Linked DNA regions of Homo sapiens: region 2 is linked to region 1. Evidence: fine-mapped expression QTL. A gene starts in region 1. The other region holds a variant in brackets. All regions are shown on one strand. Distances are between the middles of the regions.

The links.
Region 2: its variant is fine-mapped to the expression of LMF1 in whole blood (TOPMed, PIP above 0.99).

What each region holds. Positions count from the first base shown.
Region 1 is chr16:966,309-977,468 of GRCh38, reverse strand. It overlaps LMF1 (lipase maturation factor 1), which reads left to right and starts at 6,485. Exons shown (of 11, transcript NM_022773.4): 1 at 6,485-6,681. The coding sequence starts at 6,489. It overlaps CEROX1 (cytoplasmic endogenous regulator of oxidative phosphorylation 1), which reads left to right. Exons shown (of 3, transcript NR_164343.1): 3 at 376-1,708. LOC124903620 (a long non-coding RNA gene) reads right to left here and starts at 3,400. Exons shown (of 2, transcript XR_007064935.1): 1 at 2,858-3,400; 2 at 1,711-2,128. RefSeq lists enhancers at 4,316-5,306, 7,289-8,280 and a silencer at 6,074-7,243.
Region 2 is chr16:849,793-860,952 of GRCh38, reverse strand. It overlaps LMF1 (lipase maturation factor 1), which reads left to right. Exons shown (of 11, transcript NM_022773.4): 11 at 6,247-7,319. The coding sequence ends at 6,421. Among named protein-coding and RNA genes, the nearest start is that of GNG13, 55 kb to the right of the region's middle. The variant C/T (reference allele first, on the strand shown) is at 5,831.

The DNA.
Region 1 (11,160 bases):
CGGCTGGTCTGGCAGAGACAGAGTGACTACAGGCTGGGCCGGCGCAGGCTGTGAGCAGAGGCTGGGAAAGGCCCCGCCCCCGGACGGGTCTCCAGGGGAGAGGAGGGGTTCGCAGGACCCCTCTCAAGACCCCCTTCGGGAGTCAGCTTCTTGGCCACGCACACTTGGAGCTCTGGGCTGGGTTGCAGCTCCCTGTACTTCACTGTCTCGGGTGCTGGCAGTGCCAGCTGGGGCACGAGTTCCGGTTTGGGTCAAGGCTGGCCTGTTGGCTGGGGTGGCGTCTGCCTGAGAACTGGCCTTGTCTGTGCCTTAAGCTTCCTGGCGCTCACAGGGCAGTGGAAAACCACTCAGTGAGTCTTTCTTGGCACCTTGCAGGAGCAGTGCTTTCTGGGCCTCTGTAGCCAGAGCTGGCCCTGCTGCAGCTTACGTCTGCCTGCAGCCCAGACGTCCTCCTGGTCCTCCTGATGCCCCCGACCTCCACGGAGGACGAGCATTTCCAGCCCAGCCCTCCCCATCTTCACCTCGCACTCCCCTGACACACTGGGAGCCTCCTGATCCGTGAACCCGCGCTGGCGGGAGTAGCTACTGACCGCTGGGGACCCCTGCCCAGGCTGTTCGCATGTGGAAAGGATTCAGGGAGCAGGCGATGCCCAAAGCGTGGAGACCAGCACTGCTCTCTCCCCAGTGACAGGTGCACGCCCAGATCACGGATGTGTCGGGAACAGCTGTGCTCCTGCTGCTCAGCGTCCGTCACTCCAGGCTGGGAGCGGGTCCCCAAGCTTCTGGCTGGGCCTATCCGTCTCCACTCTCAGTGTGGGGGTGGGGGGCGCCAACAGCACGCATTTGCTCTCTGCACTTCTCGTCTGATAATGGGCAGAGGGTCCTTCTGCAGCCCCAAAACATCCCTAGGCAGGAGCCCTGGGGCCCCAAGCAGCCAGGGAGGTGAGCACCAAGGACCTCCCAGAGAGCGTCACCTTCCGTCGAGGGAGGCCCAGCCTGGGGGCGGTGTCTGAGACTTGGAATCAACGCTTCCGTTGGTGGCAGTAAATCCTGTCCCTAACCCTGCAGTACAGCTGTGCCGTGTACAGGAGGGTGCTGTCTGACGCCAGACACCTGGACTACAGATCGCAGCCTGATTCCTGGTCATTGCTCCACTGAACCCCAGACCCCAGCCTCGTTCTGGGCCCTCATCCCCTAGATCCAGGGACCCCAGCCCCATTTCAGCCCTTGGGCCCTTGTAGGATGCGAGGCCCTGGGCCCCAGCCCCCAGCCCATCCGTGGCCCAGGCACTGGGGGGCTGAGGTCCTCTGAGAAGGGACACAGGGCCTGGGGGGCTCTCTCAGCCCATCAGCAGGAGAGGACTGACTCCAGAAAAATCAGCGTTTGTACCCACTCAGGCTGCCAAGACCTGTGTCCGTCCTTCCAAGCTCAACCTTCAGAGTTCATGAGGCCCCTTGCCCAGAATGTCCACAGAGTTCATGAGGCCCCTTGCCCGGAATGTCCACATTTGAAACCTCCCAACACCGAGCCCCATTTCAAGTATAACCAGGAGGGAAAATGGTGCTTGAAATAAGCATGCCACAAAGGAAAACCTGCTTTCTCGAAATGGGCCCTGGCCGCCCAGGCCCTGACCTCCCCGGCCAGGATGGAACGTTCCAGAGACCCATTAGTGCCAAAGGCAAATGAAAACACACCCTGTGAAAATGTCTCTGCTGTCTCCCAAGTATTTATTTTTCTGAGCGTGGGGAAGGAAGGCTTAATTAAGATGCCCTCAGGCGGGTACGAGGGGCAAAGTGGGAGCAGGGAGCGTGCTTCCTCTGTGGCCTTGGTTCAGACAACAGCCTTCAGCAAAGCTTTGCTCTAGAGGCTCATAGGAAGGGACAGAGGGCACAGGCCCAGCTCAGCCTTTCCCCTGCCTTTCTTGGGGCCTGGGCATGGACAGCACCGCCTGGCGACACACAACGGTGGGCTCTGAGGCTGTTTGTTACGCAGCATTAATGTGGCCGTCGGTGACCGCTACACGGTGACTGATAACTGCACTGTGGGTAGAGCTCAGCCCGCAGGGCTCTGGTTTGTGACCTCTGGGCCAGGCAACTCTCAAGGCTTCTTCCAGTGCAGAATATGATTCCTAGAGAAAAAAAAAAAATTACACATTCGTTTCCTAACATAGGGCCCTGCAACCGGAGAACACCACCACATTGGGAGCTGTGCTTTCCACTGTCTAGAAACCATGGCTTGCCAGCTTGCAGGGTCACATGGAGCCGCATCTCCTTCTGGGGTGCAGGGGTGGGAACACTCGTGACCTGTAGCCGAGGGTGCAGGGAGAGGACAGGGTGAGCCAAGCAGAACAGCCGTCTGTGAGTCATCGTCCCAGGACAACCAGCAAATGGCACAACACCTGCTCTCTCAGCCCCCACCCGCACCTGCCAGCCTCACGTGGGGGGTGGGGGGGTTGGCCGCTGGACAGTCACAGCAGGATCTGCCCAAACTGACCACCCTTCCAGGAGGAGGCAACAGATGTTAGCATCCACGGGTCCTGGGCCCCCCTTCCATACCCAGACTTCAGGACATGAAAAATTGGGGTAAATGAAGGGTGCACGATTATCTTCGGGCCCACACTGGCTTCCTGCGGGTGCCAGAGACAGCTGCCACCGCATGCCAGGGACAATGGCCCCGAGGAGGCGGGAGCTGCCAGGCCGGGGTGCTGGGGGACAGCTGGACGAGGTGCCGACAGGGGCTCATTCCTCCCTGAAGCCGGCCCGCAGCTGCTGGGAGCGTGGCCAGCCACGGGCTTGTGTGTGCCTGGGTCCTGGGGGCTGTGCTGGCGCAGGCCGGGACGGCGGGGACAGGGTCCCACCTAGGGCAGGCTGGTCGGTCTCCGGGGAGGCAGCCCAGTCTTCAGCCTGCGTGCTCTTGGGGTGTCCGTCCCTTCCTCCCCATTCTCCTCCTCTTCTCAGCGTCTTCTCCCCCAGCACCGGGCAGCCCTGGGGTGGCCGAGCCTCATCTCCACTCCCCTCCCTCAGGCCTCTCCTGGGTCAGCCTGGCTTTTTCTCTTAGAGTTTTTGCTTGACAGGGCACTCTCAGGACGCCCTCCTCCTCCTCCCGCCTCGGGTTGGTGTGAGGCGCTCAGGGCAGGGCCCACGTGCCTGTGGTCACAGGACACTGAGCTGCAGGGTGAAAGGACCACACCTGGCCGATCTCCCGGCCGCTGCAGCTCACTCTGGGTTTGCAGAGAAGCCTGTTTTTAAGTGAAGTGCCTTCTTAGAGAATAAGACACACCTGTATCTAAATGTTATTTTTAAACTGCTAGATGCGCCTTAATATAGACAAAGAAGTAAGGTGAGCGTAAATGACATGATGTATTCCGACAGGTGACAGCGCCTTCCGGGCGATTCTGAAACACCAGTGCAGGGCTGTCTGTTGTCTTTTGTTTTCATTTTACTTTTTTTTTTTTTTTTTGAGACAGAGTCTCGCTCTGTCGCCCAGGCTGGAGGGCAGTGGCACGATCTCGGCTCACTGCAAGCTCCAGCCCCCGCGTTCACGTCATTCTCCTGCCTCAGCCTCCCGAGTAGCTGGGACTACAGGCGCCCGCCACCATGCCCGGCTAATTTTGTTGTTGTTGTTGTATTTTTAGTAGAGACGGGGTTTCACCGTGTTAGCCAGGATGGTCTCGATCTCCTGACCTCGTGATCCACCCGCCTCGGCCTCCCAAAGTGCTGGGATTACAGGCGTGAGCCCCGGTGCCCGGCCTCATTTTACTTTTCTAAAATTCGAGGCGAAATTCACATAGCATGAAATAAGCCATTTGCCAGTGAACGACTCGGTGTTTAGCACCTCACAGTGCTGGGCAGCCATCGCCTAGTTCCAGAAGATTCTCATCAGCCCAAAAGAAAACGTCCTACCCCCGGACCACTGGCTCCCCACTCCCCGTCCCCAGACCTGGACCACAGAGCTCCCTCCTTTCCCCGTGGCTTTGCCCACCCCGGACATTTCATGTAAATGGGCTCACGCAACTCATGACCTCCGCGTCTGTCCTGTCCCACTGAGCTTGATGTTCTGAGGTTCATCTGTGTTGTAGCACGTGTCAGAACTGGATTCCTTTTTATTTTATGTTTTATTTTAGTGAGACAGAGTCTCGCTCTGTGGCCCAGGCTGGAGTGCAGTGGCGCGATCTAGGCTCACTGCAACCTCCACCTCCCGGGTTCAAGCGATTCTCCTGTCACAGTCTCCCGAGTAGCTGGGATTACAGGTGCCCGCCACCACACCTGGCTAATTTTTTTGTATTTTTAGTAGAGGCGGGGTTTCACCATGTTGGCCAGGCTGGTCTTGAACTCCTGACCTCAGGTGATCCACCTGCCTCGGCCTCCCAAAGTGCTGGGATGACAGGCGCCCGGCTCCTGGATTCTTTTTGATGGCTGAATCATAACCCAGTGCACTTTTGATTAAATTCAGGCTGAAATGGGCACGACCAGAGCTGCTGGTCCACCTCTCCCCGGCCCAAGCCCTGCCCCCGGTGACCTGCTCTGGAGCCATTCTGGGCAGTGGATGGGACCCCTGCGGTCAGCGTCTCAAGAGAGCAGACCCTGAGGGAAACTTGAGCTCAGAGAGAACAGGAGCTCCCAGCAGACCCTTCCGCTGACTGCTCCCACCCTGGGCAAATGCAGAGCCGGAGCCCGGAGCGCTGGAAGCTGGAACAAGAGGCCCTTTTCTGCTCTGCACAATGCCCCATTGTGCCCTTCGCGGGGAGAGCAGCTCGGCCCAGCGAGGGGAAGCTGTGCACAAAGCCTCCTTGTGAGGGCAGCCCCACCTGAGGACAGCGCAGGGCCACACCTGACGCAGGGCAGTCCCTCTCGCCGTCCGTCCCCTAGCAGGCCTGGCACCCAGACAGGGCCCGCTCTGCAGGCGTGGTCCCAGGGTGTGGGGCTCCCTGTTCCCCACAGATGAGGGGAACAGTGTGGGCTGTGCCGGCCCTTCCTAAGCTGGCCCCCAGGTCACGAGGAGAGGTACGGGTCGTGGGCTCTGTGGAGGGACTTGGGTGCCGGGCGCCAGCCAGGGCCGATGCCTCCTGCGATCCCCAAGGCTCCGAGCCCTCAGGCACACACCACGCTCCCGGAGGCTGGGCCAGCATGCGGAGGATGTTTGTGTGTTCGTACCCGTTGCAACATCTTTAACAGGGTCCCATTTCACAGCTGGGCTCCTAAGGGGGGTTTCATAGAAAAGAAATGGAAACTAAAAATGAATTAAACCATAAGATGTACACGTATGCTACGGCCCCAGCAACACAGGGAAGGTGGAGGCTGAGAGGAAGCTCGGGCCACTGCTGGTCAGGCCTGGATTTGGGGGCCCGATGTCCACAGTCAGTCCCTGCCCACACAAGGCTCACACTGCAGGTGGTGAAGATATAATTAAACAGGTAATTAAACAAGCAATAAAGACGGGTCATTTGACCAACCCAGTGGCGATAATTGATACGCCAAAACACTAGGAAAGCTAGAGAGGCAAAAGAGAAGAATACATGAAAACAAAAACAAAAAACCAGGACAAATATTTCCAATATACACAAAAGAACAGGATTTTTCATACGTAAAGAGTGCTGACAAATGAATAAGGAGAAATCTGCACTTCCACCTAAGTGCCCCACAGTTTATTCACTAACCCCTAGGTCTCCAATGCCTACTCTAGCCTCACGCCCTTTCTTTCCTCTAAGGAATGCCTGTGACCCCAGCCCTTCCTAGCACCCGCTTCACATCAGCCTCCAGAACCCCGCTCCAGTCATCAGAGTGTAGAGTGCTGGCGTCCTCCTTCATGTTCTGTTTGGGGCATTGGGCAGTTAGCCCTTCCCTCCTGAGTCCTGAGTCCCCCTCTTCCCCCACAGCTTGAAGTCCAGTCCCAAGGGCAGGCAGGAGCTGGGTTGTGCAAAGGCGGAAGGGTGCTCAGGCTGGGAGAAAGGGGAGGGTCCCCCGAGCATTCCAGGCACAGCCCTGCCTACTCTGTCCCTTGCTGGCTGCGACGATCGCCCTAGCACCCTCCTCCGCAGAGAGTGAGTGTCAGCTGTGAGGCAGGGGCACGCAGTGGTAGCACCGCCAGGGCCTGTGCAGCCCACCTTCCCCAGGACCACAGCTGGGAAGGCGCCTGGCTGGGGGAGGGCACCTGGCCTCTGCAACTCGGACTGACGGAAGGCACGCGTGCCTGCCCCAGTGAGCTCGGGTCGGGCGACGCGCACCACCTCCCAGGTACCCGGCCCCGCGCCCTACCCGCAGCAGCGCCCAGCGAGAACTGCGAAGGAGGCAGGCTCCGGGCACCCGCTCCCGCGCGTGGGCGGGGCCGGCTGGAGGGGGCGGTGCCTCCGGGACTGTGAGCGGGGCCTCCCGGGGTGTGGGTGGGGCCTTCGGCCGTGGGCAGGGCCGGCCAGGGAGAGGCGGGGCCTCCGAGAATGGGCGGGGCCTCCGAGAATGGGCGGGGCCTCCGGGAGTGCGCCCTCCCCGCACATGCGCCCTGACAGCCCAACAATGGCGGCGCCCGCGGAGTCGCTGAGGAGGCGGAAGACTGGGTACTCGGATCCGGAGCCTGAGTCGCCGCCCGCGCCGGGGCGTGGCCCCGCAGGCTCTCCGGCCCATCTCCACACGGGCACCTTCTGGCTGACCCGGATCGTGCTCCTGAAGGCCCTAGCCTTCGTGTACTGTGAGTGCCGGGCGGGCCCGGGACATCCGCCAGTGTCACCTCCGCGCACCACGACCCCCGCCCTCCCTCGAGACTCCTCCGCGCGGTCTCGCGGCCGCGGCGCCCCCACGCAGCCCTCCTTCCTGCTGGGGCCCGGGCAAGGCGGGGCGGGCAGGGCAGGACAAGGCTTGCTGGCGACAGCGCACCCGGCCCTACCCCTGTCGCCGCCTCGAGCCTCCGGCCTGGGCTCCTGGGCTCCCGGTTCCACCCGCAGCCCCGAAGTTGCACGGCCGCGCCTGCCAGGACCGGCTCGGGGCTATGCGAGGCGGGGCCGGCCCGGGCCCTGGCCCAGGAGTTCCCAGGAGAGCTGGGCAGGTGGAGGGTCACCCGTCCGTGCGCAGGTCGGGGGTCTGCGTCCTGGCTGCGGGGCGGGGGGCGGCCTGGAGAGGCGAGGCGCTCCTGCTGTCCCCGACACAGCGCTGTGCTGACGGTGAAGGTTCCCACTGTAACTGGACGCCCGCACGCCACATCCCTGCCGCGTGCGGCCCCTGCCAAAATCCGAGGAGCCGGCCCGGGAGCCTCCTTCGCGTCTCCCAGGGGCTGAGGGAAGGTGACTGGCTGGTGGCCAGACTGGAGTTTCTCCTTTAGTGTTCTCGACTAGCTCAGTCTGCGTTCGGGAAGATTCCCAGCGGAGGTCTGGGGGCAGCTCCGGAACCTCATCTGCAAGTGAAGCCTGCGCCTCACTGTGGGATGTGGTTGGCCGGGTCCACTGGCGGAGACCCTTCACCCCACAGCTGTGCGGGGCCCGCGTGCGCAGCCTACAGAGCAGAGCTCTGAGAAAAGTCAGTTCACGCTCAAAACCTCTGGATCCCCTGGCCAGGGGCAGCTGGCGATTCCAACTCCCTCTCTCCCCAGTCCCTACAACCCAGAACTGGTTTGGAAGAGAACGGTTCTGTGATCACGGTGACATGTGATCACACGGATACATGTTTCATAAGCCCAACGTGTCAGGAGCTACGAACCTCAAGTGAGGCTCTCAAATGAGTATGGAAGTGAGGGGAGCCTGCCAGGCCGAGATGCAGCCAGCGGGGCGCGTGGGCAGTCACCGTCCCAGAGGGCTCCGGAGCTGCTGGCCCCGGGCGTTGCCCACGCGTTGGTTGTAGGCCGTGGGCATTGGACGTCTCCCTTTCCTTCCATCGTCTGCTTCCCTCACGTGTGGAAGGAAAGGGTCAGGTTGCAGAAGTTCTTCTTTGCACAGCCTTTGTGCCACACACGTCGCGGGAAGTTTGGTAGCCTGGTTGTGCTGGAGTGATGCTCAGTTCGACGTTTTGTGTGACATTTGTGTGATACTTTCCACCTCCTGGTGCAAAGTGATGAGACGCGCTCATCACTACAAGGTTTCCTGTGGGATTGCAGTATCGGCTTCAACTGGGTCTGTGTCTCTCTCTCTCTTTCTTTAAAGCAACTATTTTATTTTATTTATTTATTTTTTTCGAGACGGAGTCTCACTCTGTTGCCCAGGCTGGAGCGCAACGGCACCATGTCGGCCCACTGCAACCTCCGTCTCCTGGGTTCAAGCGATTCTCCTGCCTCAGCCTTCCGAGTAGCTGGGATTATAGGCACGCACCACCATGCCTGACTAATTTTTAAAAATATTTTTAGTAGAGACAGGGTTTCACCATGTTGGCCAGGCTGGTCTCGAACTTCTGACCTCAGGGCCTCCCAAAGTGCTGGGATTACAAGCGTGAGCCACTATGCCCGGCCTGCAATTATTTTAAAAAGTAGTTCTTCCCAGGTTGCTTTTCCCTCCACAGTATTAAACAGTCATTTTAAATGTTGGTGCTGTCACTTAGCAAACGATGAAGTAGAGATAAAGTGAAGCTGTGAGGCTCTAATAGGCCTTCCACAGGGGAGCCCGAGATACAGCAGGAAGTCCCAGCGGCCTTGCCTCCGGAGCACAGCTTCATAAAACCAGCTCAGACTCTTTCAAACGAGCTGAGGCTCCTTTGATCTCCGCAGGGATTCTCTGTTCAATTCAGAAGGAACTGCTTTTAAGCCACTGGGTCAAGCGGATATTTTAAGCCTGGTGCCCAGCATTGAACATTTCTCCTTGACATATGCACGTTCTTCTGTCTTGTGAGTACATTTGGGGTAGAATCAGTGTTTTTCTGCTGTATCAAGGAACCAGTTTCCCATCTTTCAGGGACATGGTTTTCTGGCTGAGCTGGCCCAGGGCAAGCAGGCAGTCATCCTGCATTTATCTCCTTCTAGAAAGTTCTGGATTTTACTGGGACTGTGCGCTACTCCCTGTTCCTCAGAATCCCAGGGTTTTTCCAAGTTGCCATAGGGGCTCTCCAAATATTTCACTTGATACTGAATTTTACAATGTTTATAGCTATTGAAACACTTGTAATTAAACACATAACCAAATGTATTCTGTGGAAACTCCCCTTGTTAAAAGACATTGAACTGAGGGAGGCTTACCCTTAGGCAGATTGTCTCAGCAGACATGTAGTAAAGATGTACAGATCAGGAGAACACAGAAACGCCTGCCCTGTCGGGGAAGCTTCGAAGCCAGACCTGGAGAGGCCGGCTGCCAGCGACAGGCCTCTGCATTCAACCTGACTTTGCATCCGTCCTGGGGCTGGCTCCTTCCCACCGCGGGCCTGGGCGTTTCCATGTGCTGCCACCGAGGTGTGTAGGTGCTAGGGGTGTGCTCACTGCACACAGACGTGCATACCGCGGGCGTCCTGGGGTGTCGGGCATGCCCTGCTGTGCTGTGGGAGCCGGAGTGTGTTAGCGGAAAGCGGCATTTTCACAGGGCTCAGAGTTGAAGACACACCTGTCTTCCTGACGTGTGGACTCGGGTCCCTAGTGTGATTACTGCGTTGAGCAGATGCTGAAGTAGCACCCTGCCCGGTGCTGACCTCCTGGTGACAACGCCACTACCCCCAGTGGACAGCGAGGAAGCAGGGTCAGCCACTGGCCCGGCTGTGCAGCGATTGTCCGTAGGCCCTGGAGTTCAGCCCTGCCCTTCATTCACGCCACTGTGCAGCCTGCGTATCCTGGACACCCGGTTCACATCTGGGCAGCGGCGTTCTCGGGCCGTGACGGCTCCTGGGAGGACCGAGGCTGCCCGAGGTGGTCGGGGATGCCTGACACTGACACTGAGCTTCCCCTCAGCACAGATGTCACTCCCAGGAATGGCTGAAATCTGGACGAGTAAAAGCTTATGTGACAGGAGTTTCCGGCCTAAGCAGCGGGACCTGGGTGCCATGTTCTTGGTGTGTAGGGGCAGTGCCGGCCGCCCATGGGTGCCGGTGCCTCCTGCAGTCAGGCCTGCTGCTGTCTGTGTGCGCAATAAGGAAACCGAACCCAAGAGTGGGCACCATGCCCAGGCTCACCGGAACAGAGGGCAGAGCAGCCTGGCCAGAATCCCTCACTGTTTTATGGCAGGAACCCCCAGGGTCGTGCGTCGACGTTGTGGCCCGGCGTTCCCTGCGGAAGATTGAGGCCCTCACTGGTCAACCCTGCAGTACGGGGGCGTGTGTGGCAAACAGCTGGTCTGGAGCCTCGTCAGCCAGGCCGGCTCCTTGATGCTTTGAAATCCCCCTCCCAGGGGGCCTGGCCAGGTCCGTCCATGGGCGGCCACAGGCAGCTGGGGCTGGACTCCTGGAATTTCCAGCAGCCCTGTGTCTGTTACAGCGCCAGTGGTAGAGCTGGATTCCCTGACAAGACGGGGGAAGGACAGCCTTGCAGGTGCTACTGAAGACACCCTAGGCTAGAGCTGCCCACCCTGGGTGGGTTCTCCTGGACTGAACTGACGTTGGTTTGCTATTGATGAGAGTCACATAGTATATGTACACAATGCATTTTAACTGCCTCAGAATTAAGGTGTTATCTGGAAACAGTGTAATTACAGTTGGTCAGAATTGGGTTGATAGCAGTTCACTGCAGAGAACTTTCTGGAAGCTGTGACAGGTGGAAGTAGTGGGGCTCAGGGTTGGTGGGCCACACCTTAGCTGTGTGGCCTTGGCCAAGTTGCTCATCAAGACCTTCCTGTCACTGATGAGGTGAGAGTGACCGCTGGGCCGTCCTGAGGCTGACATGGGATTCCTTGCCTGTGCACACTTCCCAGAAGGCGGACCAAGGACACACCCGCCTGGGAGACGGCTCGCAGGCAGCCACGGAGTATATATATCTGAACGTCGGAAAGGACCTTTCCTTTGAAGCTCAAACATTTATGAGATATTGTTACAATTCGGAAGGGATCTGTAGGTGAAATGTGACATGAAGACTGGGTAACGTTGGCATTTGCAGACTGACTTTATGTGTGGCACTTTTCGTGGGTGCCATGGCGTCGGCGCAGAGACACTCCTGAGGGATTTCGTCTGTCGGTCCATGTGTTTGTGGGGGCCGAGTCCTGGACAGGCCTAGGAGGGAACCGCCCCGGCCAGGGCCGGCTGCTCGGCGCCTGCACAGGGCATGAGTGCTGGGGGC
Region 2 (11,160 bases), 120 kb after region 1:
GCAAAAATAGCTAAAACCATTTTGAAAGAGAACAAGGTGGAACGAATCAATCTACCCAGTTTCAAGACACAGAACTACAGTAGTCAACACAGTGTAGTATTGACAGAGGGACAGACATGCAATTCCATGGAACACAACAGAGAACCCACAAAGAGACCCAAACAAACATGCCCGGATGAGTTTTTTTTACAAAAGCGCAAAAGCAATTCCATGGACAAAAACAAAATCTTCGACCCACGTCTCACCCCACACAAAAATAACTCAAAACGGATCCTGGACTTCAACGTAAAGCATAAGACAATCAACTTTCAGGGCCAGGCATGGTGGCCCACATCTGTAATCCCAGCACTTTGGGAGGCCAAGGTGGGCAGATTGCTTGACCTCAGGAGTTTGAGACCAGCCTGAGCAACGTGGCAAAACCCCGTCTCTACTAAAAACACAAAAAATTAGCAGGGCCTGGTGGCACATGCCTGTAGTCCCAGCTACTCGGGAGGCTGAGGTGGGAGGATCACTTGAGCCTGGGAGGCAGAGGTTGCAGTGAGCCGAGATCACACCACCACACTCCAGCCTGGGCAACAGAGCGAGAGCCCATCTCAAAAAAAAAAAAACTTTCAGGAAAAAATAGAAGAAAATCTTTGGGATCTAGGGCCAGGCAGAGTCATTATACTTAAAGATGATCTGTGAAAGGAAAAATTAATTGAAATTCATTAAAATTAAAAGCATTTGCTCCATAAAAAGACCTGTTAAGAGAACAAAGATAATTTTTAAGCTACAGACAGAAAATATTTGCAAGTCACGTATCTGACAATAGTCTAAAATCTGGAATATGTAAAGAAGTTTCATAACTTAATACTAAAATAATCTTATTAGAAAATGAGCACAGAGACGTTTCACCAAAGAAGGTGCACAGATGACAGATAAGCTCAGGAGAAATGCCTGTCATTAGAGAAGCAAAAACCACCATAACACCACTGCACACCCATCCGGTACCATCACTGCACACCCATCCCGTGACACCACTCACACCGATCCCGTGACACCACTGCACACCCATCCCGAGACACCACTCACACCCATCCCGAGACACCACTGCACACCCATCCCGTGACACCACTCACACCCATCCCGAGACACCACTCACACCCATCTCGTGACATCACTGCACACCCATCCCGAGACACCACTCACACCCATCCCGAGACACCACTGCACACCCGTCCCGAGACACCACTGCACACCCGTCCCGAGACACCACTGCACACCCGTCCCGAGACACCACTGCACACCCGTCCCGAGACACCACGCACACCCGTCCCGAGACACCACTGCACACCCGTCCCGAGACACCACTGCACACCCGTCCCGAGACACCACTGCACACCCGTCCCGTGACATCACTGCACACCCGTCCCGAGACACCACTCACACCCGTCCCGTGACAACACTGCACACCCGTCCCGAGACACCACTCACACCCGTCCCGAGACACCACTCACACCCGTCCCGTGACACCACTCACACCCGTCCCGAGACACCACTGCACACCCCTCCCGAGACACCACTGCACACCCATCCCGAGACACCACTGCACACCCGTCCCGAGACACCACTGCACACCCGTCCCGTGACAACACTGCACACCCGTCCCGAGACACCACTCACACCCGTCCCGAGACACCACTCACACCCGTCCCGTGACACCACTGCACACCCGTCCCGTGACACCACTGCACACCCGTCCCGAGACACCACTCACACCCGTCCCGAGACACCACTCACACCCGTCCCGAGACACCACTGCACACCCGTCCCGTGACATCAGTGCACACCCGTCCCGAGACATCACTGCACACCCGTCCCGAGACACCACTCACACCCGTCCCGTGACACCACTCACACCCGTCCCGTGACATCACTCACACCCGTCCCGTGACACCACTGCACACGCGTCCCGTGACACCACTGCACACCCGTCCCGTGACACCACTGCACACCCGTCCCGTGACACCACTGCACACCCGTCCCGTGACACCACTGCACACCCGTCCCGAGACACCACTGCACACCCGTCCCGAGACACCACTCACACCCGTCCCGTGACACCACTCACACCCGTCCCGTGACACCACTCACACCCGTCCCGAGACACCACTCACACCCGTCCCGTGACACCACTGCACACCCGTCCCGTGACACCAGTCACACCCGTCCCGAGACACCACTCACACCCGTCCCGAGACACCACTCACACCCGTCCCGTGACACCACTCACACCCGTCCCGTGACACCACTCACACCCGTCCCGAGACACCACTGCACACCCGTCCCGAGACACCACTGCACACCCGTCCCGAGACACCACTCACACCCGTCCCGAGACACCACTCACACCCGTCCCGAGACACCACTGCACACCCGTCCCGAGACACCACTGCACACCCGTCCCGAGACACCACGCACACCCGTCCCGAGTCACCACTGCACACCCGTCCCGAGTCACCACTCACACCCGTCCCGTGACACCACTCACACCCGTCCCGTGACACCACTCACACCCGTCCCGAGACACCACTCACACCCGTCCCGAGACACCACTGCACACCCGTCCCGAGACACCACTCACACCCATCCCGAGACACCACTGCACACCCATCCCGAGACACCACTGCACACCCATCCCGAGACACCACTGCACACCCATCCCGTGACACCACTCACACCCATCCCGTGACACCACGCACACCCATCCCGAGACACCACTCACACCCATCCCGTGACACCACGCACACCCATCCCGAGACACCACTCACACCCATCCCGTGACACCACTCACACCCATCCCGAGACACCACTCACACCCATCCCGAGACACCACTCACACCCATCCCGAGACACCACTGCACACCCATCCCGAGACACCACTCACACCCATCCCGAGACACCACTCACACCCATCCCGAGACACCACGCACACCCATCCCGAGACACCACGCACACCCATCCCGAGACACCACGCACACCCATCCCGAGACACCACGCACACCCATCCCGAGACACCACTGCACACCCATCCCGTGACACCACGCACACCCATCCCGAGACACCACTCACACCCATCCCGAGACACCACTCACACCCATCCCGAGACACCACGCACACCCATCCCGAGACACCACGCACACCCGTCCCGAGACACCACTGCACACCCGTCCCGAGACACCACGCACACCCGTCCCGAGACACCACGCACACCCGTCCCGAGACACCACTCACACCCGTCCCGTGACACCACTCACACCCGTCCCGTGACACCACTCACACCCGTCCCGTGACATCACTCACACCCGTCCCGTGACACCACTCACACCCGTCCCGAGACACCACTCACACCCGTCCCGTGACACCACTCACACCCGTCCCGTGACACCACTCACACCCGTCCCGAGACACCACTCACACCCGTCCGGTGACACCACTCACACCCGTCCCGAGACACCACTCACACCCGTCCCGTGACACCACTGCACACCCATCAAAACGGCTGGAATAAAAGTAGCAACAACCCCACATGCTGGCAAAGATACCAAGAAATCGAGTCACTCGGCTGTTGCTGGGAGGGTAAAATGGCTCCTCAAAAAGGACACCCGAAGTTGCAGTGGACTCAGCAGCTGCTTCCATGGACGTTTAAGCCAGAGAGTTGAAACCCAGGTTCACGCAGAAACCCGTGCAGAGGTTTACGGCAGCCGTCACAGACAAAAACTGCAAAGAGCTCAGCTGTCCTTCCACAAGAGAGCGACCGCACAAACTAGGGTGCACTCACGCCGCAGACGCCGGTCAGCGACGAGGAGGAAGGAAGCCTCCATCACACGACCTGGCGGAACCTGAGAATTGGCGTGAGAATCGCCTGCCCCGCGGGTACGTGCCGCAGGGTTCCACTCATTCTTGAAATCATACGTTCTTGAAATCACACAAGGAGGCCGAAGGTCGGGGAGGGTGTGGAAGGACACGGGGGTCCGGGCGTGGATGGGACCCGTGTCTGTGGCCTCAGTGTCAGGCCCTGGCTGCAATCCCTACTATAGCTGTGCAAGATGCCCAGCTGTTGCCAGTAGGGTCTATTTCAAAAGGGCTGGGAGATCCCCTATTTTCAACACTCTCAAGCCCTCCGGGGCGGTGCCATGGCCTTCTCGGGTACTTTGTCTGCAGGAATGAAATGCAACCCTTCAGGCCGCTGGGGCCTGGGGCCCCTTCCCACCAACCTGCCAGTTGGCACAGAGGGTTCTGACCCTTTCCAAAACCCTTTCCAAACTGCAGTTCCAGCTCTTGATGTCAGAGACCAGGCCCTGGGCCCCCTAGGCCTTGACCCTGTCCTGGGAAGGAGCAGAAAGCAAGAGCAGGAATTTGGGAAAGATGGGCAATCCCACTGCAGGAGGCCTTCCCAGGATCCCCACCCTCCCGGCCTCACTAAATGCAGGGTTTGGGAGAGGGTGGGCCTGCCTGGGGACTGCATTGCCCTAGCAAGGCCCAGGAGAGTGTGCAGGGACCATGCTGCCCGCACAGCCCAGCGCCCTCACGGCCGCATTCCAGCCCGTCCCTTCAGTCTGCTGCTGAGCTGCTCAGAGGTCGACCTCGGGGTCCAGTGTGACTTCTCTGCCTGGCACCACCTGGCCTCAGTCCCCATGCTGGCCGCTGCCGTCCTTATAGCCAAGGAAAACCATGGCAGCCTCAGGCCCAAGGGGTCCAGGAAAGACCCCTGGGGCCCAGGGCAGTGGGCAGTGCCCTCCTGGAGTGGACGGGAGCCACCAACTGCCAGCATCACCCTCAGTCTTGGCTGCCCGGGAGGTTTTCCAAAGGCCCGACCCCACTCCTCTTGGAGCTGCTGATCCCTCTCTCCCATCAGGCGCCTCAGGGACCCTCCTCCACCCAGAGGGTCTCTGTCTTCCCGGTTTTCCTGGCGTAATTCAGACTTGGGGAGAGAAGAATCATCATCCATCACACACCCAGACCCAAAGAGACTCAAAGCCAGGAGGAGCCGGGTGGACCCAGAGGCCCTCACCCTGCCAGCCTAAGGGGCATGGCCCAAGGTCTCCACCCCCAGCCCCCAGAGCACAGCTGTGTGCAGGTCACCAGAAGCCCCAAATAATGACAGCAGCCCAGACAGTCGCTACCGGGCCCTGGTGCAGTGTGAAGCCTCTGGCACCTGCCTGGGCTCATTCCAGGGGCCATGAGAGGGTCCTGTTATGGCTGCACCATCACACCCACCGGGCAGCTGGGGCCCAGCTCTGCCATGGATCCCAGCCAGGCAGCAGCCGCCCTGTGGGCTGAGAAGCTTCCGCTCCTGCTGCACAACTGCGAAGGGGCCTGGAGGGCCGGGAGCTTGTGACGGTGACAATTCCTCCTGGCGCCTCCTCCTCCGGGGCAGCCGAGCAACCCTGGACATGAGGGGGCTTCGTCCCACCCCCAGGAGAAAATGCCCAGTCCTCCGAGAGTCCAGTGAGGGCTTGCCAGCCAGGGACCAAGACCCAGTATGGCCTAAACCAGGCCTGGTCACCAGGGGTCAGGCGGGACCTTATACAGGGCTCAGCAGAGAGACCTGCCCGCTACCCTGCTCCAGGGGAGATGGGGGTGGGGGCCTTCATCCCACTCGGGCATGACAGAGGAGAGCAGCCAGCCAGCATCTGCACGTCTCAGGCAGGGAAGGGCCTGAAGCCCTGGGAAGCAGAGGCTCCGCCCTCAGGAAACAGGTCCCGGCCTGGCTCCCTCACAGCCTCGGACTGCCCCGTGGACCGAAACCCCCAGGCACCTTGCGCCAGGACTGGCCTGATGGTGGAGA[C/T]GCCACACCATGAGCAGTAGGTTCCTCTCCCCACCTTCCCAGGCGGGGGACACTTGGGGCTCAAACTGGGGCCTTGTGAACGGTCTCAGGCTTGCTCAGTGCCACCCGTGAAGCTCCTGGCCTTCCCCGGGCCGGTCCCTCTGCCAAGTGGGCCCTGCTGGGTCTCCCCTCCCGGAGCTGCCCCCCGTCCGCCCTTCCCCCTTGCTGCGCTGTTCACTGCTGAGGGTGCCGACTGGAACAGTTGCCCTGCCCGGGGTCTGCTGGGGGTCTACCTGTGCTCAGGGTGGGGGCTCCTCATGCAGCCCCTCTGTCCGTGGGGGACCCTGTGAGCAGCTGCAGCTCAGCAGCAGGCTGAGGAGCCGGGTCGGGGGCCGGGAGTCCCAGCAGGCCCTGGGCTGACATGTGCCCCCTTGCAGGTGGGTCCGAGGAGAGCACTACAGGTACAAGTTCAGCCGTCCTGGGGGCAGGCACGCCGCCGAGGGCAAGTGGTGGGTGCGGAAGAGGATCGGAGCCTACTTCCCTCCGCTCAGCCTGGAGGAGCTGAGGCCCTACTTCAGGGACCGTGGGTGGCCTCTGCCCGGGCCCCTCTAGACGTGCACCAGAAATAAAGGCGAAGACCCAGCCCCTCGGCGGCTCAGCAACGTTTGCCCTTCCCTGCGCCCAGCCCAAGCTGGGCATCGCCAAGAGAGACGTGGAGAGGAGAGCGGTGGGACCCAGCCCCCAGCACGGGGGTCCAGGGTGGGGTCTGTTGTCACATACTGTGGCGGCTCCCAGGCCCTGCCCACCTGGGGCCCCACATCCAGGCCAACCCTTGTCCCAGGCGCCAGGGGCTCTGATCTCCCATCCATCCCACCCTCCTCCCAGAGGCCCAGCCTGGGGCTGTGCCGCCCACAGGAGTTGAGACAATGGCCATCCTGACACCTTCCTCCACTACAGCCCTGACCATAGACCCAGCCAGGTAGCTCTTGGGGTCTCTAGCGTCCCAGGGCCTGGTTTCTGTTCCCTCTTCAATGGTGTGTTCCCAGCCAGGTCCTGACCCTCAGAGCCAAGTCCCTGTCACGTCTGGGGCAGCCAAACCCTCGCCCCACAGGGACCTGGACACGCCCGGCCAGGATGTGGGGTTGGATGGGCCATTTTCTGTCCTATCCCTCATCTCCACCCCCGCCACAGCCTACACGCATCCCACACATGCAGGCACACACAGCCTGTGCACACATGTGTTCTTGGCCCGGTTTCATCCCCCCATGACTGGTGTCTGTGAGGTGCAGATGGACACAGCGCACACCCAGACCCTCCACCAGGCTGTGACCTCGCTGCCTCTGAGGCCTTGACAAGGCCCCTCAATCGGAGGACAGCCGGCCGTGCACACTTTCATCATCGTCGGACAAACAGCGTCTACTGCACATTTTTCTTATTCCTATTCTTGAGCCATAGCTATGGCATATTCTTCTACTATTCCTATTATACCACTTACCAGCTTACTCGAAAACACACTGTTTAAATGAAGAAGTTCTTGTACCTCCCTCCCCTTGGCGGTGGCCGTGCCCCCAGCCCACACTCTGATGCTGGGGCAGCGGGTGACCGAGCGGGAGCTTGATGGAGAGGTGAATGGGTGGTGCTTTGCCTGGCGACCCTTCCAGTGTCTGCTGCGGCAATACTTGGAGTAAATGGGAATGAGCAGGGGTGCCAGCCCTGCCGGAAGGAGGCAAAGCTCTGGGGCAACGTCCCCCACCCAGGACGCTGTGAGGCTGGGTCCTGGGAGAAGTCAGAAGTGGGCCCCACCATAGGACAGAGGCCCTCCCCTCTCCCCCAGCCTGGGGGGGCGGTTCCCCCACCCACCCCTTCCCCCTGCCTCCATCCACGGCACCTGGAGCCATGATGCCCACGGCTGAGCCACTGTGGGGGGCCCCAGTGGGGACAACACGGTGGTTCAGGCCGAGGAGGGCGGCTGCGGTAGGCACAGTGTGGGTCTGTGTGGAGCCCCCCCTCGGCCTGCCCGGGGGGGACAGCCAGCCCAGGTGCCAACAGAGGGCCCGTGTTCCAGCTCCCGGGGAAACAGGGCGCCCTGTGTCTGTGGAGGGACAGACAGGGCCTCAGAGGGACGCACCAGGAGCCAGCAAGTCTGCCGGAGCGACCACGCGGAGCTGTCGGCCACAGGGGCCTGGGCGGCCCTTCCCGGGGGGCTGTCCCAGGGACTCTGCTGTTGGTGGGGCCCAGCCCTGTGGCACAGCTCAGGGGCGGACATCTCAGGCAGCGGCAGTTGTGGGAACCCGAGGGACCCATCGCCTGGGAAAGGCTGGTGCCACGGGGTGCCCCTGCCCAGCCTCTGCAAGGGGGAGACCTGAGGAGCCAACAGCCCTCCATGCCCCCTGCCCGGAACCCTCCCGTGCGGCTGTCCTCCCCGTAGTGGGTCCCGAATCCCACAGCCCCTCCTCCCGGGCTCCTTCACCCCGCTCCAGGCTCCTCTTGTCCCAGGGCAGCTGTGCACCACTGGTCTCCCGGGGACCCCGTAGTGGGGCTGCAGGTCCTGGTCAAGGGGGGCAGGGCAGGAGCCCACAGCAGTAGTGACTGGGCACCCCGTTCATGGGACCCACAGCCCAGAGACTCCGCAGCACTGTCCTGGGACCACGGGAAGGGCCTGCAAGAGCCCTGGAGCAGACACCCTCATCCTCCGTTGGGGATGGCAGCTGTGACTTCCCAGGGGACCTGGGGGTGGGGTCACAGGGCATGTGGGGTCAAGTCACACAGCATGAAGTGGACCAGGGCCGTCATTAAGCGAACAGTTTGTGGTGTGGAGTGCGCTCCCGAGGCCGTGCATCCACCTCCCCTCCATCCAGCCCATTTCCATCTTCCAGACAGAGCCTCTAGCCCCAGGGAATCCATCTCATGCCTCTGTGGGTCCCTGTTCGGGACCCTTCATATAAACGGAATCACGGGCCTCAGCCCTCCCATCGGGCATGTCAGCTTCTTCCCTCACGTCTGAACTCTCCACAGAGTCTGTGCGAGACGCCCAGCCCCCGGCTGCCTGTGTTCTGTGTGACGGAGGGTCCCACCTGCCGGTGTGGGGCAATGGGGCCAGTGGCCCCGACACGTGTCAGGCCGATGCCTGTGGTCAGGAAGTCCCCTGGGGGCGGAGGCCTGGGCATCTGAAGGGGTGCTCGGGGTGGGAGTCATGGTGTGATCTGCCCTCCCCATCTCGGCCAGCCTCGGGGGCCTGTCACTGTGGAAGGCAGGTCTGCTACCACCTCTGGGTACCCCACCAAGGTCACAAAAATAGGGGGGCCCCTGGACCCAGCTGGGGGCCTCGAGGGCCCACTCCATGGAGCCCTTGGCTCTGACCCGTGAGTGTCCAGCCCTGCTCAGGGAGACCCCCTCAGCTGGCAGGCAGAGGAGCCCTAATGGTGGGGGTCCAGTCTCTGGATCCAGGTTCCCAGAGACGTCCACTCACCTGGGGCGGACAGGTGACCTGAGGTCGGGTTGTGACAGCCTCGGCTGGAGTGGAGCCTGCACCCTCTGCAGACCCAGAGTCTGTCACACCTGACCCTTCCAAGGCTGGGTTCCCCTCACCTCATCTGTCTTTGGCAGATAGTCCCAAGGCCTCACCACACTGAGCCCATCTCCCCCAAACGTCTGGGGTCCCTGTGTGGTCAGGGCCGTGGGGCCTTTACACTAGCAACCAGTGCCAGCGCCCACACGGCAACCCCCTGGCTCTCCAGGGCCTGCTCTGCGCCCTGACACTAAGCTGCCCCAGTCCCGCACCAGGCCCTCAGTGTGGGTCTGCTGGGTCAACTGTGGGCCTGGGGGAAGGGAGAGGCACCCTGGAGTCCCCAGAGCAGCCTCCCTGGCTGGGTCAGGCCCTCAGCCATTCTCACTGCAGCTTGGAGGTCTCAGACTGCCCAGGTCCTCATCTGAGCAGGAAGGTTTGGGAGAATGGCAGCTTTGGAGCTTCAGATCAGCAACACACAAGAATACCACAGACGGCAGCAGCTGGCCCACAGTGGCAGAAAAGAAAGCTCCCTCGTCAAAACAGTATCACAGCAGCATGGAGACCTAGAGATAAACGGGGCACAGTAACCACCCGAGAAATCGTCCCACATGCGGCCAGGTACCGCCCAATGAGAACAACACGAGAAATCGTCCCACACACACGGCCAGGTACTGTCCGATGAGAACAACCCGAGAAATCATCCCACATGCGGCCAGGTACCGTCCGACAAGAACCCGAGAAATCGTCCTACACACGGCTAGGTACCTTCTGACGAGAACGGCCAGAGAAATCGTCCCACATGTGGCCAAGTACCATCCGACGAGAACAACCCAATAAATCGTCCCACACACGTGGCCAGGTACCTTCCAATGAGAACAACCTGAGAAATCGTCCCACGCATGCGGCCAGGTACCTCTGACGAGAACAGCCCGAGAAATCGTCCCACACGCAGCCACGTACCTTCCAATGACAACAACCCGAGAAATCATCCCACACACGGCCACATACCTTCCGACGAGAACTAGGTACCTTCCGACAAGAACAACCCGAGAAATCATTCCACACATGCAACCAGGTACCTTCTGACAACAACAACCACAGAAATCATCCCCCACGCGGCCAGGTACCGTCCAACGAGAACGACCAGGTACCTTCCGACAAGAACAACCAGGTACCTTCCGACGAAAATGACCCGAGAAATTGTCCCACATGCAGCCACGTACCTTCCAATGAGAACAACCCGAGAAATCATCCCACACACGGCCACATACCTTCCAACGAGAACAACCAGTACCTTCCGATGAGAACAACCAGGTACCTTCCGATGAGAACAACCCGAGAAATCATTCCACACATGCAACCAGGTACCTTCTGACAACAACGACCCAAGAAATCGTCCCACACGCAGCCAGGTACCTTCCAACGAGGACAACCAGGTGTCTTCCGACAAGAACAACCAGGCACCTTCCAACGAGAACAACCAGGTACCTTCCGATGAGAATGACCCAAGAAATTGTCCCACACGTGGCCTGGTACCTTCCGACAAAGGCTCTGAGACCATTCAATGGGAAGAGGACAGCCTTTTCAGCAAATGGTACTGGGAAAGCTTTATCTCCACATGCAAAATAATGAATGAAGCTGGCCCCTTACCTAACAGCATACACAAAAATTAACCCAAAAAACATAGGATGAAACACCTAAATGTAAGAGCTAAAACTGTAAGACTCAGAATAAAACCTGGGAAAATCTTAAGGACATTGGATTTGGCAGTGTTTTCTTGGATATGACAACAACAGCACCGGCAACAACACAGAAAATAAATTGGACTTCATCAAAATTTGAC